5 linked regions of the Homo sapiens genome follow. The protein of the gene in region 1 purifies or fractionates together with the protein of each later gene. This does not show direct contact. Each region holds a gene or a part of one and is shown on either strand. Other genes may lie near its edges.

The links.
Region 2: the proteins of DNAJC27 (region 1) and LRRC61 purify together in Homo sapiens (affinity purification with mass spectrometry; one large-scale study listed by BioGRID and IntAct). This does not show direct contact.
Region 3: the proteins of DNAJC27 (region 1) and KLHL36 purify together in Homo sapiens (affinity purification with mass spectrometry; one large-scale study listed by BioGRID and IntAct). This does not show direct contact.
Region 4: the proteins of DNAJC27 (region 1) and DNMT1 purify together in Homo sapiens (affinity purification with mass spectrometry, with the first as the bait; one large-scale study listed by BioGRID). This does not show direct contact.
Region 5: the proteins of DNAJC27 (region 1) and FAM184B purify together in Homo sapiens (affinity purification with mass spectrometry, with the first as the bait; one large-scale study listed by BioGRID). This does not show direct contact.

What each region holds. Positions count from the first base shown.
Region 1 is NC_000002.12:24,965,111-24,969,157, reverse strand, and holds part of DNAJC27 (dnaJ homolog subfamily C member 27), read left to right. Parts: exon of another isoform or gene 1-275; intron 276-1,864; coding exon 1,865-1,947; intron 1,948-4,047. UniProt on the Homo sapiens protein: GTPase which can activate the MEK/ERK pathway and induce cell transformation when overexpressed. May act as a nuclear scaffold for MAPK1, probably by association with MAPK1 nuclear export signal leading to enhanced ERK1/ERK2 signaling.
Region 2 is NC_000007.14:150,335,747-150,338,944, forward strand, and holds the end of LRRC61 (leucine-rich repeat-containing protein 61), read left to right. Parts: intron 1-971; 5' UTR 972-1,115; coding exon 1,116-1,895; 3' UTR 1,896-2,410; downstream 2,411-3,198. Other genes in the region: RARRES2 (retinoic acid receptor responder protein 2 precursor), read right to left, coding at 2,879-2,995.
Region 3 is NC_000016.10:84,665,511-84,668,186, forward strand, and holds the end of KLHL36 (kelch-like protein 36), read left to right. Parts: 3' UTR 1-2,176; downstream 2,177-2,676.
Region 4 is NC_000019.10:10,153,258-10,157,304, reverse strand, and holds part of DNMT1 (DNA (cytosine-5)-methyltransferase 1), read left to right. Parts: intron 1-795; coding exon 796-914; intron 915-1,359; coding exon 1,360-1,452; intron 1,453-2,248; coding exon 2,249-2,400; intron 2,401-2,531; coding exon 2,532-2,719; intron 2,720-2,825; coding exon 2,826-3,012; intron 3,013-4,047. UniProt on the Homo sapiens protein: Methylates CpG residues. Preferentially methylates hemimethylated DNA. Associates with DNA replication sites in S phase maintaining the methylation pattern in the newly synthesized strand, that is essential for epigenetic inheritance.
Region 5 is NC_000004.12:17,774,976-17,779,022, reverse strand, and holds part of FAM184B (protein FAM184B), read left to right. Parts: intron 1-4,047.

The sequences.
Region 1 (4,047 bases):
AAGTCCAAGAAGGGACTTGCTCCTGATCTCCCTGAAGATCTCTACCATTTAATTAAGAAGTAGTTATTGTTCAAAAGCATCTTGAGATGAACAGAAAGGATAAGGATGGTAAATTCTGTCTGATTCTGATAGAGAGGTAGAGTCACCCTTTGGCTCAATATTGTAAGACCAAGCAAATCCTCCCTCCCAGTTGGAAGTGAGTAATCTACAGCCTCTGTCCTGGTCATATAAATTTGTCTATGTACTCAAGCAATAAAATGATTGTTTAATTTAAAAAAAAATTTTTTTTAAGCTACCAAACTTTTCCCATTGGTATTGGGAAGGAAATATGGAGACATCAGTGGAACAGAGTAGAGTCCAGTAATAAACCCAGATACGTAAGGAAATTCAATTTACACAAATGTAGTAAAATTATGGGAAAATAGAGACCATTTAGTAAATATTGTTGTAACAACTGTCTACTATTTGAGAGTAGGTTGGATTCCTATTACATTCCTTTCTCAAAAATAAATTCTAGGCCGGACACAGTGGCTCACGCCTGTAATCTCAGCACTTTGGGAGACCGAGGCGGGCGGTTCACGGGGTCAGATCGAGACCATCCTGGCCAACATGGTGAAACCCCGTCTCTACAAAAAAAATAATAATAATAAATAAATAAATAAATAAATAAATTCTAGATGGATAAAAGATTTAAGTGTAACTTTTAAAAAAACTTATTATTTTGCCTTAGTTGTAAAAGTAACACATACTCATTTTAAAGGATTTGGAAAATATAGGATGATATACAGGTAAAGCATTTTAAAGTTAAAAATTAAGGAATGCCTTAGTAAATAATCATTGACTCAAACAGCAAATTAAAACAAATGACAAAGTAACTAGCAAGCAATGAAATGGAGGGAATATTTGCATATCACAGACTATTGTGTAACCATAAAAAAGTGAGTAGAGCTATTTTAAAGTTAACTTGGGAACCATAATTTATTATTGTTAAGAGAGAAAAGCAAACTCTAGAAGTATGTACAATACTCTGTGAAGTGAGTACTTTTTACTGCAAGTAGGACAAACCCAATTCAATTGATTTAACAGGAAATTTTTTTTCTCTTTTTGAGACAGGGTCTCCCTCTGCCACCCAGGCTGGAGTGCAGTGGCATCATCGTGGCTCACTGCAGCCTCTCCTCCTAGGCTCAAAAAAAAAAAAAAAAAGGAATTAATCTAATAGATATTTAGAGATGTGGATCTGGTCTTGGCAGTGAGGTCAAGGCTAGACAGATATTTTGGTGGTATCGTTGAAAGCATAAGAATAGAAGACATCTTCAGAAGAAAAGAGCACAGGATTGAGAACTCAACTGAAAACATATGCATATTTAGTAATAAGGGAAGAATTTAAAAATAATTTTTCTTAAAATCTTTTAACACTTGTTTCAGTTATTTTATAGTTTTGTCTTTTTTTTTTTTTTAGACAAGCGTTCACTCTTACCACCCAGGCTGGAGTGCAATGGCAGCAATCTCAGCTCACTGCAACCTCCGCCTCCCGGGTTTACACAATTCTCCTGCCTCAGCTTCCCGAGTAGCTGGGATTACAGATGCCTGCCACCATGCCCGGCTGATTTTTGTATTTTTGTAGAGACGGGGTTTCGCCATGTTGGCCAGGCTAATCTTGAACTCCTGACCTCAGGTGATCCACCCGCCTTGGCCTCTGAAAGTGCTGAGATGACAGGCGTGAGCCACCGCGCCCCGCCACTTTTGTCTTTTGAAAATGCTTTTTCATAGTGATGAATGGAGGAACCATAATGAAGAAATATACTTATTCTGTATGTGTTCTCACTATGTATTTACTAAATGCCTGTATTTTTTACCTTTTTAGAGCTGTATTATAAAGCGATACTGTGAGAAAAGATTCGTGTCTAAATACCTGGCAACAATTGGAATTGACTATGGAGTCACAAAGTAAGTATATTGTTTCCCTGGGTTTGTAAGTTACATAGAAGTTCAGAACTTTCCAAAATGATCCATATTTGCATCAGTGCTCTTGTGTAGGTAATCTTGAAATGGAGACTTTGAAGATAAGTTGGGAAAGATAGGAATAGTAGACCTTTACAGGTATCTAGTGATCATATCATTCATTCAGCCTGTGTATTGGTATTGAGCACATCCCATTCACCAGGCCTCGTGTTAGGTGTAGGCTACAGCAATGAACATGTCAACACAAAGCCTAAATGGCAGGTGTAACTTTCCAGGAAACATGTTTTTATATTAGCAGGTCCTTCCAGCAGGTGTGTTTTTAGAGCATTTTGAAATATTCTCTCTAAAAAGTCTATAAATATTGTGTGGAACATTTTCTACCAGAGAAGTTTTTTTATTGGTTTATGATCTTCATAGCTATTAGAATCCAGCAAAAATGGGCCAGATGCAGTGGCTTATACCTGTAATCCCAGCACGTTGGGAGGCCGAGACGGGCGGATAACGAGGTCAGGAGTTCAAGACCAGCCTGACCAACACAGTGAAACCCTGTCTCTAAGAAAAATGCAAAAATTAGCCGGGTGTGGTGGCACACACCTGTAGTCCCAGCTACTCAGGATGCTGAGGCAGGAGAATCACTTGAACCCGGGAGGCAGAGGTTGCAGTGAGCTGAGACTGTGCCATTGCACTCCAGCCTGGGCGACAGTGAGACTTCATCACAAAAAAAGAAAAAAAAAATGAATTGGGAAAAGTAAAGTTGGGTCCAATTGGGGATTTATCTGGAGATGAGTCAGGAGGGGGTTGAGCTTGAAGAGTTGGATATAATTAGCAGGAAATACCCATACAGTAGAATTGGGGTAGATAGCATACTCCTTAAACATGAAATTTCAGGTGTTCACTATCTTGGCCCCACTCTGGCCTTTCCCCTTTTGTCTTTTCTGTTACACACTTTACTTTCCATCCATGCTGAACTGCTACCCTCAGACTTTCTACCTCAGCACCATTATCCAGCCTGTCCACTTGGAACAGCCCTGCCCATTTCTCCAAGATATAAACATTCTCCTGTTCCCGTAAGGTCTTCTAAACATGCCCTTTATTGGTCAGGACTCTTTTTGGTTGCAAATGACAGAAATCCTAAAGTTGTCTATGGTATTTATGGTACTTACCAAAAATTGCCTTGTATTGTTATTATTTGTATATGTGTAATGTCTCCTGCTAGATTATAAACTCCCTGAAAATTTATTAGTATAAATTTTCTCCAAGTGCCTGGCATAGTGCTTATACCTAATAGGTACTCAATAAATATTTATTGTTAGGTAAGATAGGTACATCTAAAGAGGAAGTTTGCCAGATTAGACTATGAGGGCAATATTTAAGAAGGTAGACTAAAGTTTTGACATATAGCTAGCAGAATGTCGATTAGGTGAAGAGTGGAGTCAAGTTCAGATGTATCCTTCATGGCTTTTTAAAGTGGCCCCAGTAAATGGTAGAGTAAAACTCAAGAGTTGTGTGTAATGCTCTTACAGCACCATTTTTCAACTGACAGCAGCAGAGGGTATTTCTGCAAATTTTCTTTAAAGAATGAAAATTGTAGCTCTTGGCAGTGAAATGTATGAAGCTCTTCATTTGAAATTCACATTTCTGGCTTGGCACGGTGGCTCATGCCTGTAATCCTAGCACTTTGGGAGGCCAAGGCAGGCAGATCACCTGAGGCCAGGAGTTTGAGACCAGCCTGGCCAACATGGTGAAACCCTATCTCTACTAAAAATACAAAAATTAGCCGGACGTGGTGGCAGTTGCCTATAATCCCAACTACTTGGGAGGCTGAGGTGGGAGAATCACTTGAACCCCGGAGGCGGAGGTTGCAGTGAGCCAAGATTATGCCACTGCACTCCAGCCTGGGCAACAGAGTGAGACTCCTCAAAAATAAATAAAAATAAAAATGAAATTCACATTCTTTTTTTTTTCTTTTCCCTGAGACAGAGTTTCGCTCTTGTCGCTCAGGCTGGAGTGCAGTGGCGCGATCTTGGCTCACTGCAACCTCAGCTTGCTGCAACTTCCGCCTCCCGGGTTTAAGCGATTCTCCTG
Region 2 (3,198 bases), on another chromosome or scaffold:
TCTGTTATTTTCCTCACTGCTTAAATCTTGAGGTCCCTCCACCAGGCCACCCCTGCTTTGTGCCACAGTCATGCGCTGGCACCTGGACTCACCTGGTCCTGCAGCCCCTGGCAATTTGATGTGCCCCTCCCGGCTTTCTGGAGCCACCCTTCCCTCCCTCCAAGACAGCCTGCCCTTTGGGAAATTTATGTTGTCTTTGCAGCTGGCACCGTGCTGTCTGGCACGTATATCAGTGCTGTTCCATTGATCTGTCCAGCTGAGTCCAGAGCAAAAGAGCTAGCTTTGGCGGGCAGTGAAGTGAGAGCAAGGGTGTGCGACCTAGCCAGGCCACTTACCCCAGCCTTCCCTGTCCCTTCACTACCTTGACCTCAGTTTTCTCCTTCAGGACTAAAGGCCAACTTCTTATGCTCTACAGCTCCAACCAGAGGTACCAGCTGACCCATATAATCTGGAAACAAGTTTGAATTCATTGCTGTTAGAAAGAATTGCAGTAATACTGAGTGAATCAAACAAGGCACATGTGCTCTCGTTTGCATTGCATATACATTGATTATCCCAGAAAGAAAACAAAAGAAACTGGTGATGGTGGTTACCTATTGCCTATTCAAAAATAACGGTTTAAAAAACACCCCAAAACTAATAGGGATGGATCGTGAGTGGTTACGGAAAAAGTAAAATAATGTTTTGCCCCTAGTTTGGATTTGACAGGAAGAACTGGTAATATTGGGCCTGAATCCATCCAGCATGGCCCTAACCAGCCAGGGCCAGTCTGGGCTGCTCCCCTTGGGTTGGGCCTGCACCCCATCCCTGTCACTCAGATGGCTTTTGTGGCCTGTGTCCCAGCTTGGTCTTCAGGTCTTGCCTGGCTGAGATTGTTGGTTTTCATGGTAAAAGCAGGGTCAGACTCCCTGCCGTCACCTGCTGCGTAAGACACAGAAAGTGCTGCCTGCTGACTGACTGTCTCTCCTCAGGGACTGGCTGGCTTCGAGCAGGGCATCGGAACCAGGCCTCCTGGCACTGGCCTGGGTAGAGCCAGGGCGAGCACCAGCTGACCCCCAGTGGAACCCTGTGACAGTCCTGCCAGGGCCCAGGCCATCCCAACCGACTTCCATCTCATGGACCCTCCAGCGGAGAAGCCGGGAGAGGCTGGCGGACTGCAGATCACACCCCAGCTGCTGAAGTCACGCACAGGCGAGTTCTCCCTGGAGTCCATCCTGCTACTGAAGCTGCGTGGCTTGGGACTGGCTGACCTGGGCTGCCTGGGAGAGTGCCTGGGCCTGGAGTGGCTGGACCTATCAGGCAACGCGCTCACCCACCTGGGCCCGCTGGCCTCCTTGCGCCAGCTAGCTGTGCTCAATGTCTCCAACAATCGGCTGACGGGCCTGGAGCCACTGGCCACCTGTGAGAACTTGCAGAGTCTCAATGCCGCAGGCAACCTACTGGCCACCCCGGGCCAGCTGCAGTGTCTGGCTGGGCTACCGTGCCTGGAGTACCTGCGGCTCCGAGACCCTTTGGCCCGGCTCAGCAACCCGCTCTGTGCCAACCCCTCCTACTGGGCTGCAGTCCGGGAGCTGCTGCCTGGCCTGAAAGTCATCGACGGTGAGCGTGTGATTGGGCGTGGTAGTGAGTTCTACCAGCTGTGCCGAGACCTGGACAGCTCCTTGCGTCCCAGCTCCAGTCCAGGCCCCAGAGCCACCGAGGCCCAGCCCTGGGTGGAGCCAGGCTACTGGGAGTCCTGGCCCAGCCGGAGCAGCTCCATCCTGGAGGAGGCCTGCCGGCAGTTCCAGGACACACTGCAGGAGTGCTGGGACCTGGACCGCCAGGCCAGCGACAGCCTGGCCCAGGCGGAGCAGGTACTCAGCTCTGCGGGCCCCACCTCTTCCTTCGTCTTCTGAACGTGGCCTATGGCCCAGGACAGCCTGGCAGGTGGCCTCGCTGCCCCCAGTTCCCCTCTCTGCCCCCACACTCGTCTTAGTTGCTTCACACTGGTCACTGGCCCTGCACACTGGGCTATTGCTTTATCCCTATCCTGAGAGCAGCCCCTCCCCACCATCCCTCCACATGCTGCAAGGACAGACTGAAGGGCTGTGAGCAGGTGTAAGGGCTCCCACATCCGTGAGCCTGTGTCCGCAGCTGCTGCCACTCTGGGCTGCTCCAGCCTGCAACTTAGTGGAAGGAATTACTTCCTCCTGAGGCTACAGGCGAGAAAGGTAGGGATGGGCCAGCCTCCCGTCTCAGCTGTTGGGAGACAGTAGGCAGGCTGAGTGGCCCAGAGCACTCCTGGAAGTGGGACTCCCCTGCCTTGCAAATGTGCCTCTCCAGACTGCTCCTGCACTTACCCCCTCCCCGCAGCACCTTCTCTGCCCGTTCTTGTCCACACATCTATTAAATGCTTCTGTTTTCATTTGCATCCCTGCCTGGCATTTCATGGGGGCACCTCTGGCTCTGGAGCACAGGAGGCTCTGCTCACCCTGCCCACAGGAAGGGGTCCCAGAGGAAGGGTCCTGTCCCCCTGCCCTCTCTGGCCGCCTCTGAGCTACGCTAAGGAGGAAGTCGTGCAACACAAGGAGCTGAGAGGCAGCTGGGAGAGCAGCTTTATTATCATGGCTGGGGATAGAACGGGTTCCTCTCCCTGGGGGCTGGGGTCTTCCACTGGTTACCACCCGCAGCGGTCCTGGAGGCACCACGCATCTCTAGACAAAAGGGGAAACAGGTTTGGGGGTGAGGGAGGTTGCTTCAGCCCCAGTCCCAGCTTTCCTCCCAGGCTTCTGACCTGTCCCCTCCCAGGCTCCCAAAGCCCAGCCCAGCCCCTCAGCATTCCCAGGGCTGGCCTCATCCAGACGGTGCTCTCAGCCCCCTGGTGCCTACCAGTGCTGGCTTAGCTGCGGGGCAGGGCCTTGGAGAAGGCGAACTGTCCAGGGAAGTAGAAGCTGTGGGGGTCCTCACCAGCCCGCTGCACCCTGAGGCACTGGGTCTCCTGGTGCTCCTCAGCCTCCTGCCAGTGCCCAAAACTGTTCAGGCAGTGTAGGAGGGGTGGGCAGTGCCAGTGGAGGGCTGCCAGCATCCTCCACATCCCCTCCACATCCCTTGGAGAATGTCCAAACAGGCACAGCGCTTTCTAGCCCCCACTGCCCTCCCTCCTGCTTGGCCAAGCTTTAGCCTCGAGACCAGCCCATAGGCTCAGCTTCCATCCATCTT
Region 3 (2,676 bases), on another chromosome or scaffold:
TGGTTAGCACGCAATTGGTATTTTTATTGTTCTGCCATTTTATTGAGGCTATCAAGTGGGACTTCAGACCTGGCTCTGAGCAGGACCACACGTGTGTATTTATATTGAGTGCCCTCACTCATGATAAGGTGACTTCATGGAGACCCAGAAACTCACCCTAAGGGGTGTTCACCTTTGAGGTGGGCATCCAGATGCTGAGGGGAAGTGGGGTCCATCCTCTGAGGTCCAGGGGCCTACTTTGTGAGCTCAGTTGTGTTCACCTGTGGTTCAGTGTACCTCGGCCCCTAAGCCAAGTGATCGTTCAGTGACTTGCAGCAATGTGGGAAGTGAGGGGACCCCTGCCACACCCCCCACCACCCCCTGTAGAGTCACTGACCTTCATCCTTCACCCTGGTCCTCCATGGTGCAGCAGCATCTCATGGGCCTTGTGGCTGTCAGAGCCCGTGGTTGGAACCCCGTCCACTGGTCCCAAACCTGGAGGGGCAGCTGCAGATGAGGTTTAGACCTCCTGGTGTCTCCGTGGATTCTGAGTGCCCAGGAGGGGAGGGGAGGGGGTGGCATCCTGGCCTCTAGGATAAATGCCTGGAGTATAGGGCAGCGCCACGGGCACTTGGAGACCCTGTCCTGCGCATCTGCCAAGCCTGGCAGTTTTTAGAGTTTTTTGAAATGTTTTGATACTTTTTGATACAATTTGCTAATAACTGTTTTGTAGAATGCCTGCCGGGGTTTTCCACCTCATCCCTTTCCTCCGGCCCCTTGATTTGTGCTGGACAACAAATGGCAGCACCAGGACCTCGCCTCATGTGGCTTTGTCTTGGATCTTGCCCTTCTCCATCGCTGATGTGATACAGCTCTAGAATTTCGTGAAGTTGCATGCAAAGTTGCATGCAGCCCGTGGGTATGACTGTCTCAGGCCCCCAGCTCATTTGCCAAGAGGAAACCTTAACCCCCCTGAGAGGGTCTGCGTTTCTTCTAGAGCTCCTACCTCAGTGGTGTGCACAGAGTTGGAGACACCTGAGGGCTGGTCCACGTCTCACCTTTGCCATACGGGTCATTTCTTGATCAAATATATGACTGGGGTCCTGGTTTACTCCCGCCCACCCTTTCTTTTAAAGTATTCTTAACATGAAATCCACAAAAGCGGAAACAATGAACCATTCTTGCACTTTACAGAATCATTGTCCTTAGCTTTAGAGGTTGTTAATTTCTTGTTTTTAACATGAACAGAATGTGTGGTTCTGAAGGTGTGTGGGGGTCTCAAGAAATTGTCCTTTGGGGCCGGGCGCAGTGGCTCACGCCTGTACTCCCAGCACTCTGGGAGGCCAAGGGGGACGGATCACCTGAGGTCAAGAGTTTGAGACCACCCTGACCAACATGGTGAAACCCCGTCTCTACTAAAATACAAAAATTAGGCAGTCGTGGTCGCCTGTAATCTCAGCTCTTCCGGAGGCTGAGGCAGGAGAATCGCTTGAACCCAGGAGGCAGAGGTTGCAGTGAGCCGAGGTTGCGCCACTGCACTCCAGCCTGGGTGACCGAGTAAGACTGTCTCAAAAAAAAAAAAAAAAAAGAAAAGAAATTGTCCTTTGGTTGCCTTAGTTACCAGAGTTGAATGAATGTACACATTTCGGTAGTGGGGGGGCAGAGCGGATAACCCCTTCCTTGTCTGTTTCCTTTGAGAAAGGACACTCCACCTTTTCAAAGGTACTTAAAGCCATCTTTACAGATTGCTTGTAATGTAAGGAAAGAGTCATGTCCTTTGGATTGATTGAGGTTAAATCATCAACCACTAGCCCCCTTTCAAAATCAGCGAGATATTTGATGATTAAGTGATTCATTGGGTATGTTCTGGCTACTGATGTTACTGAAATCTGCAATCGTGTATGTTTTTTAATTTGTTGCTTTTGTATTTGTAATTTTATGACATTTCGAAGTTTCTGTGTCTTAACTCTTTTTAATTAATTTTCTGCACGTTGCTTTTTTCTCTTTGTTTTTAATTCCATACAGAGTATTCAATTCTTGAAACACATTAAAATAATTTGCTTGCTAGGGTATGGTTTATTTTATAATTACATTCCTAGTCTTGTGTGGTTATTGTAATGATGTCTGGTCCTAATTTCTCTGCCCGTATGAAAAAGAACCCCTTGCCTGTTGATCCTAAATATAATTTGGAAATTAACCAGACTTCCTTTTGGTGTTGTGGGGAGGCTGGGACATTTCAATTCTGCTTTCATTGTGTTTCTAATTACTGTATTTTGCCAGGAATTTCATTCAGTTCCTTGATTGCAGGGCTAAGTCCCCGTGACCTGAAATGAAACTATTTGCTTAAATGTGTGTCAACTGGGGTAATTTGATTAGAAAAGAAACACAGAAACCAAGGGAAACAGCTTATGACAAGCAGTGTGCTATCTTTATCAGAAAAAATGCAATCACAATACTCTAAGAACCAGCTCTGTTTTCCTTCGGGCGCTCCCCTGCCTTGCTGGGGTTTTGCAAGGCCACCAGCAGAGAAGCCCAGGCACGGTTGTGCACCCTTTCCTTGTCCCTTCGGCAGGTCAGCATCGGGAGGGTTGGGGAGGGGTGTCTGCGCAGCCATCATACCTGATAAGGTGGTTAGAATTTGCCTCTGAGCCAGTGAGCCCCAAACGGGACCCGCTGCCCGGTGCCGACTTCCTCACC
Region 4 (4,047 bases), on another chromosome or scaffold:
ACTCGTATAATATAAAATTAACCATATGAGGTATCTTGAATAGGTGAATTCATAGGTATAGAAAGCAGATTGGTGGTTGCCGGGGGCTGGGGGCTGAGGGCCGGTTGGGAGGAGACTGGAGAGTGACTGCTACTTGATGGGAATGAGGCTTTATTAACATTTGAGTGACAGAAATGTTCTGCAGCTGAATAGAGCTAGTGGCTGCACTGCATAGTAGAAGGTGTTCTAGAAACCGGTATTTCCCGCACTGTAAGTCTGACTGATCTTTTGGTGTTGCTGTTGCAGACACACATACACTTGATGCTTAGGTGGGAGAATAAGGTAGAAACTCTGGGTGATAGAACGCTGTCTTAATCCAGTGTTCCCGCAACCAAAAAATGAGTGTCGGGGCCAGGCATGGTGGTTCAGCCTGTAATCCCAGCACTTTGGGAGGCTGAGGTGGGTAGATCACTGGAGATAAAGAGTTTGAGACCAGCCTGCTACACATAGTGAAACCCCGTCCCTACTAAAAATACAACAATTAGCCGGGCATGGTGGTTCAGGCCTGTAATCCCAGCTACTCGGGAGGCTGAGGCAGGAGAATTACTTGAACCCGGGAGGTGGAGGCTGCAGTGAGCCAAGATTATGCCATCGCGCTCCAGCCTGAGGGATAGAGCAAGACTCTGTCTCAAAAACAAACAAAAAAAGAGTGTCAGACTTGTACATTCTCTCATTGCCTCGTGCCTGATCTGAAGTCTGCACGAAGACCCGCCTTCACGGCTTAGCTGGTAAGCATGTGCTTTGTTTCCTGTCTAGTGTGTACTGTAAGCACGGTCACCTGTGTCCCATCGACACCGGCCTCATCGAGAAGAATATCGAACTCTTCTTTTCTGGTTCAGCAAAACCAATCTATGATGATGACCCATCTCTTGAAGGTAAGGAATAGTCCGGGATTATGTTTGGGGCACACTTTAAAAACAGCCAGGCAGGGTGGCTCACATCTGTAATCCTAGCACTTTGGGGGTCTGAGGCCAGAGGATCACTTGAGCCCGGGAGTTTGAGACGAGCCTGGACAACATAGCAAGAGCCTGCCTCTATTAAAAAAAAATATATAGCATATATATATAGTATACATATATACTTATATATATGTATAAATAAAAAACATACTTATGAAGCAATAGTCAGCTGGAGTTGCTGCTGCCTCTTAAAGTTAGGGTGTGAGACTTTGTGCCAGGAGCAGCTGTAGGCCAAGTCATTGTGATGACTGAGGAGCACCCGACCTGGCTGATGGGATGTCTGCTGAGTGGGCGCTTAGAGCGCCTCCTGGGTTTGGGATGTGAGTCAGAGCCTTTAGTCCATTTCCTTTTTCTGCTCTAGGTGGTGTTAATGGCAAAAATCTTGGCCCCATAAATGAATGGTGGATCACTGGCTTTGATGGAGGTGAAAAGGCCCTCATCGGCTTCAGCACCTGTAAGTGTGTGGCCCATCATAGGCTGGCCGGGGTCTGAAAGGGGCCTTCATGTTCTCCTTCCTGGGGGCTGACGGGGCTCTGGTGGGAATTCTCAGCAGGCTTGCAGAAGGCCATGTGACTGGGAACCTTAGCAGGTTCAGTTGGGGTAGCCTCTTGTGTTAGTTATGACTGGCTCTGGAACTGACTCTCCAGTTGTAAGAGCAGGTCTTGGCCGGATATGGTGGCTCACACCTGTAATCCCAGCACTTTGGGAGGCCGAGTTGGGGGGATCATTTGAGGCCAGGAATTCGAGACCAGCCTAGCCTGGCCAACATGGTGAAACCCCCTCTCTACCAAAAATACAAAAATTAGCCACGCATGGTGGTGCATACCTGTAATCCCAGCTACTTGGGAGGCTATGGCAGGAGAATCACGTGAACCCAGCAGACAGAGGTTGCAGTGAGCCGAGATCACGCCACTGCCCTCCAGCCTGGGTGACGGAGCAAGACTCTGTCCTCCCCTGAAAAAAAAAAAAGAGCAGGTCTTATTCTTGCAACCCAAACCCAGACTGAATTCCAAACACCAGAGATGAGCTCAATGAAGGCCTACTCAGCTAGTCTTCGCTCTCTGGCTGGCTCAGACAGGCTTCTTCAGAACAAGCCAGCTATGATGTGTTGTGCCCTATGTTTCTGACATTTGGGTACGGGATGACTTTTAGACTGTTGGGTGAGTTTGGTAGACTCCTCCATGCCCTGTGGCCACTGTAGGCGCCATCAGATTCCAGCCCCTTTTCCACACCTCCTCTGTTCACCCCAGCATTTGCCGAATACATTCTGATGGATCCCAGTCCCGAGTATGCGCCCATATTTGGGCTGATGCAGGAGAAGATCTACATCAGCAAGATTGTGGTGGAGTTCCTGCAGAGCAATTCCGACTCGACCTATGAGGACCTGATCAACAAGATCGAGGTAAGAGATCGAGGGTCCTCAGCATCCGGGATTCCCACTGGAAACTTGCCTTCAGAACCAGCAGACACTGTTCTTCAGTTGGATTTAGGCCAGTTTGGCTTAAGCATGAGAGAAACCTGTTCTCTTTCAAGACCACGGTTCCTCCTTCTGGCCTCAACTTGAACCGCTTCACAGAGGACTCCCTCCTGCGACACGCGCAGTTTGTGGTGGAGCAGGTGGAGAGTTATGACGAGGCCGGGGACAGTGATGAGCAGCCCATCTTCCTGACACCCTGCATGCGGGACCTGATCAAGCTGGCTGGGGTCACGCTGGGACAGAGGTAAGGATGCGGCAGGGACCAGAGTGAAGACTGGAGACCGGGGAGGGTAGAGCATGGCCCACATCCTCTGTCCCAGTCCTCTGAGATGCTGGAACCTCTCCCGTAGGCGAGCCCAGGCGAGGCGGCAGACCATCAGGCATTCTACCAGGGAGAAGGACAGGGGACCCACGAAAGCCACCACCACCAAGCTGGTCTACCAGATCTTCGATACTTTCTTCGCAGAGCAAATTGAAAAGGATGACAGAGAAGACAAGGAGAACGCCTTTAAGCGCCGGCGATGTGGCGTCTGTGAGGTAACCTCACCTGTGGGTGCTCCCGCTCCCCTAAGGTGGCCCAGCCTCTGGCCTGATCTGAGGACTGCTCCATCTTTCTCTCTGTGGCTTGAGACTCTGGCTGCTCAAATGTGACCCCTGAGACAGAAATTAGTTAGTGGTCTGGGAGGACCCTGCATACTTCATTGAACGTCAATAGGACAGATGTCCACAGAGGCATGCTTGGGTGCTTTGCTGATAATGCCACTGTCCTTAATTGAAGAGCCTGGCTTCTGGGTGGCTCTGCTGTGCCTGCATCTCACAGTCTGAAGGCCCCTGTTGGACTGCTAAAGGGGTATTCACATCTAAGTGGGCACTTTGTCCAGCTTAGATTTGAGGCCCTCAGGAGGCGTCCCTTTCTGTGAGTTTTTAAAATATATGTTTACTTCACTCAGGAGGAACTAACTTCCTAGTCCTATGACCCAAAGACCAGGACTATTTTGATACCTATTACCTGACTTTCTTTTGGATAAAGACTGGCTTCAGGGCTTTGCTTTTGATCCCCGCTGGCATCTCTTAACAGGAGCCTGCATGTCCTCACCATTGTTATTTTGGTTTTATTTTATTTTTCTTGGTTAACACACGTGTGTCCAATGTTTTATAACTTCTAAAATCTTTTTTTTTTTTTTTTAATTTTTTTGAGACAGTCTCTCTCTGTCACCCAGGCTAGAGTGCAGTGGCACCATCTCAGCTCACCGTAACCTCCGCCTCCCGGGTTCAATCAGTTCTCCCACCTCAGCCTCCCGAGTGGCTGGGATTATAGGCACCCGCCACCATACCCGGCTAATTTTTTTTGTATTTTTAGTAGAGATGGGGTTTCACCATGTTGGCCAGGCTGGTCTTAAACTCCTGACCTTAAGTGATCTACCTACCTCGGCCTCCCAAAGTGCTGGGATTACAGGTGTGAGCCACTGTGCCCAGCCCTAAAATCATTTGTTTTTATTTGTGTAACTGTTACGTGTTGATACTGGTAGATCTAGTTATTTCATTTTAAATATTCTGTAGTATTTTGTTAAA
Region 5 (4,047 bases), on another chromosome or scaffold:
CAACATACATACTTAACTCTGATTTTTTTGCTAACAAAGTTAGTATGTAATTGTTTCTTCCCATGAAAGAACTTTGTATATTTTACTCATTTAACAGCCCCTTCCTTCCCATCTTTTTATTGCTGCCTAGAGTTTTATTTTTACTTTTTTGTTCGTTTGTTTAAGAGACAGGGTCTTGCTCTGTTACCCAGGCTGGAGTGTAGTGGCACAGTCATGGCTGACTGGAGCCTCAAGCTCCTGGCCTCAAGCAATCCTCCCACCTCAGACTCCCAAGTAGCTAGGAACAGGTCCACACCACCACCCCCAGCTAATATTTTCTTTTTCAAAAATTTTTTGTAGAAATAGAGTCTCACCATGTTGCCCAAGCTGGTCTCGAACTCCTGGCTTCAAGCAATCCTCCCGCCTCAACCTTCCAAAGCTCAGGCATGTGCCACCGCATTCAATCTGTTTTTACTTCTTAAATTTAAAAATAGTTTTTATAGTTAAAAGTTAATTAAATTTATGACATTTTATCAATTTTTCTGCTATTTCTTTTTCTTGAATCTACAGTGTTCCCTTTGGGTTCACTTTTCTTCTGGCTGAAGTCCATCCTTTAATAGTTCTTTCTGTAGGTGCCTTGGTATGGGAGGGAATTCATTGTTGGAAATGTCTTAATTTTGCCCTCACTGTTGTATGATGATTTATTTGGATATAAAATTCTAGTGAACAGTTATTTTCCCACACCACACTGATGATAGTACTCCACTGTCTTCTGGTACTAAGTGTTGCTGGTTAAAAATTCTACTGCCAATCTAATTTTCATTCCCTTATAAATAAGCTGCCTTTTCTCTTTGATAACATTTCAGATTTGTTTTGTTTATTTTTACTGTCCAGCAGGTTTTCTAGAACTGTCTTGGTGTTAGTTTATCTTTATCCTCTGCAAAAGGAGGAGGTACTTTTTTTTTTTTTCTTTGAGACAGTGTCTCACTACGTCACCCAGGTTGGAGTGCAGTGGTGTGATCAAAGCTCACTACAACCTTGACCTCCCATACTCAAGCTGGACTACAAGCATGAGCCACCATGCCCAGCTAATTTTTAAAAAATTTTTTGTAGAGACAGGGTCTCACTATGTTGCCCAGGCTGATCTCAGACTCCTGAGCTCAAGCAATCCTCCCGCCTTGGCTTCCCAAAGTGCTGGGATTACAGGGGTGCATATGCTTTCTTTAATTCTGGAAAATTATTACTGATTTTCTCTTGCAATATTGCTTCCTAGCCATTACCTCCATTATCTTTTCTGGCACTACCATTAGGTAAGTGAGGAAGCCTCACTATCTATATCCTGAGATGTTATTTTTTTAAAAAAAGATTTTGTCTTTGTGTTGCATCCTGGTGAATTCCTTGCCTTCCAATTTGCCAGTCTTCTAAATAATTTGTCCAATCCAGAGTTTTTCCCATCTATTAAGTTTTTTGAATTTCAATAATTATATTTTTTATTTCTAAGATTGTGCTTCCTATTTTCTTTCTGCCTAATTTTGATTAACAGTTTTTTTAATATTTACAGCTTTATTGAGGTATAATTTACATACCATAAAATTCACCTGTTTTAATTGTTCAGTTCAACATTGTTTTAGTCATTAAGCCATAACCATAATCCAGTTTTAGGGACATTTTCATCACCCCAAAGAAATCTTCCCTTGTGGCCATTTGTAGTCAGTTTCTGTTCCCACCAACAGCCCCAGGCAACCATTCATCTACTTCCTATCTCTTTAAATTATCTCTAAATGAAACCATATAATAAATTATTCTTTCCATCTAATTCTTTAAGATTCATCCACATTGTAACACATATCATTAATTCGTTCCTTTTTATTACTTATTTATCCTGTTCTATGGGTATGCTGTGTTTTATTTATCCATTCACCAGCTGATGGACATTTGAGTTTCTACTTTTTGGCTTTTATGAATAATGCTGCTATGAAGATTACATTCACGTGCAAGTCTTTATGTGTTCTTGGGTAGATACCTAGGAGCAGAATTCTTAAGTTGTATGATAACTTTTACTTCTTTAAGAAATTGCCAAATTGTTTTGCGAAGTGACTGTACCACCATACATTATCCAGCCTACTTCAGCACAATCTCCTAGTACATCCCTACGCACCCAATTCTCAGGTCACAGGGAAGTACGATTCTTTCCTTACTCCACTGTGCACTCACCTAGCTTTCCTCTTGAAGTTTCCTCACCTGAAATGTCTTCCTCTCTAAAAGTAAAATCTGCTTATCTTTTGAGTCCCACCTCCTCTAAAAAAAAAACCTTTTAAAAACCTTACTTTTCTGATTAAGACTGTGTTAACTGGCCGGGCACAGTGGCTCACGCCTGTAATCCCAGCACTTTGGGAGGCCGAGTCAGGTGGATCACCTGAGGTCGGGAGTTTGAGACCAGCCTGACCAACATGGAGAAACCCCATCTCTACTAAAAATACGAAAAGAATTAGCTGGGCATGGTGGTGCATACCTGTAATCCCAGCTACTCGGCAGGCTGAGGCAGGAGAATCGCTTGAACCCGAGAGGCGGAGGTTGCAGTTGGCTGAGATCGTGCCATTGCACTCCAGCCTGGGCAACAAGAGTGAAACTCCATTCCAAAAAAAAATTGTTAATTAATTTTTAACTGTGTATTAATTACATTTACTTATCCATCCATTTCTCCAGCAGTTTGTACAAAGTCTGACACATAGTAGATCCTCAGTAAACTTGTTCAATTTAATTATAGTTTCCTCCTATAGGTTTGTTAATATTTCTTTCATGATACTTATCCCTATGATATTATAGTTGACTTGTGGATAGTATGTCCTTAAAGTAATAAGCTCCTTAATTTTATTCATAATACTTTACACCTGGTAGGCACTCACTATGTGGTAGTGTAGTAAATATTTATTTACACAATGACCCAAGGCCCAAGGTGCCCATTAAAATCACCTACAGAGCCCTTATTTATTTGTTTACTATATCAATGTATCCAAAAGATTCTAAAATACGTATTTATTTTTAATTTATATAGATTTAGGGGGTACAAATGTGCTTTTTACATGGATACAATACGTGGTAGTGAAGTCTGGACTTTTAGTGCAACCATCACACGAATAGGATACATTGTACCCAGGAGCTATTTATGATCCCTCATCCGCCCTGCAGCCTCCCACCCTTGGAGTCTCCAGTGTCTATTATTCCACATTCTGTGTTCCTGTGTACACATTATTTAGTTCCCACTTGCAAGTGAGAACATGTGATATTTGACTTTCTCTTCCTGAGTTATTTAACTTAAGATAATAGCCTCCACTCAGAGAGCTTTTAAAAACACACCAGTTGAAGACTTGACAACTAAATGCAGTGCCTGTCCTAGATTGGATTCTATACCGACCAGAAAAATTGCTACAAGAGATGATTGGGTCAGTTGACAAAACTGGAATACAAATGTTGGGTAAAGAAGATAAAAGTGTTTCTATTGATGTTAAGTTTACTGGAGTTGACTGTACTATGGCTATGCAAGAAAATTTCCTATTCTAGCTGGGCTCAGTGGCTCATGCCTGTAATCCCAGCAGTTTGGGAGGCCGAGGCGGGCAGATCACGAGGTCAGGAGACGGAGACCATCCTGGCTAACATGGTGAAACCCTGACTCTACTAAAAATACAAAAAATTAGCTGGGTGTGGTGGCACGCACCGGTAGTCCCAGCTACTCGGGAGGCTGAGGCAGGAGAATCGATTGAACCCAAGAGGCAGAAGTTGCAGTGAGCCAAGACAGCACCACTACACTCCAGCCTGGGCAACAGAGCAAGACTCCATTTCAAAAATAAAATTAAATTAAATTAAAATTAAAATACAAAAATTAGCTGGGCATGGTGGTGCACACCTGTAGTCCCAGCTACCCAGGAGGCTGAGGCAGGAGAATCACTTGAACCCGGGAGGCGGAGGTTGCAGTGAGCTGAGATCATACCACTGCACTCCAGCCTGGTGACAGAGCAAGACTCCATCTCAAAAAAAAAAAAAAAAAAAAAAAGAAAAGGAAAATATCTT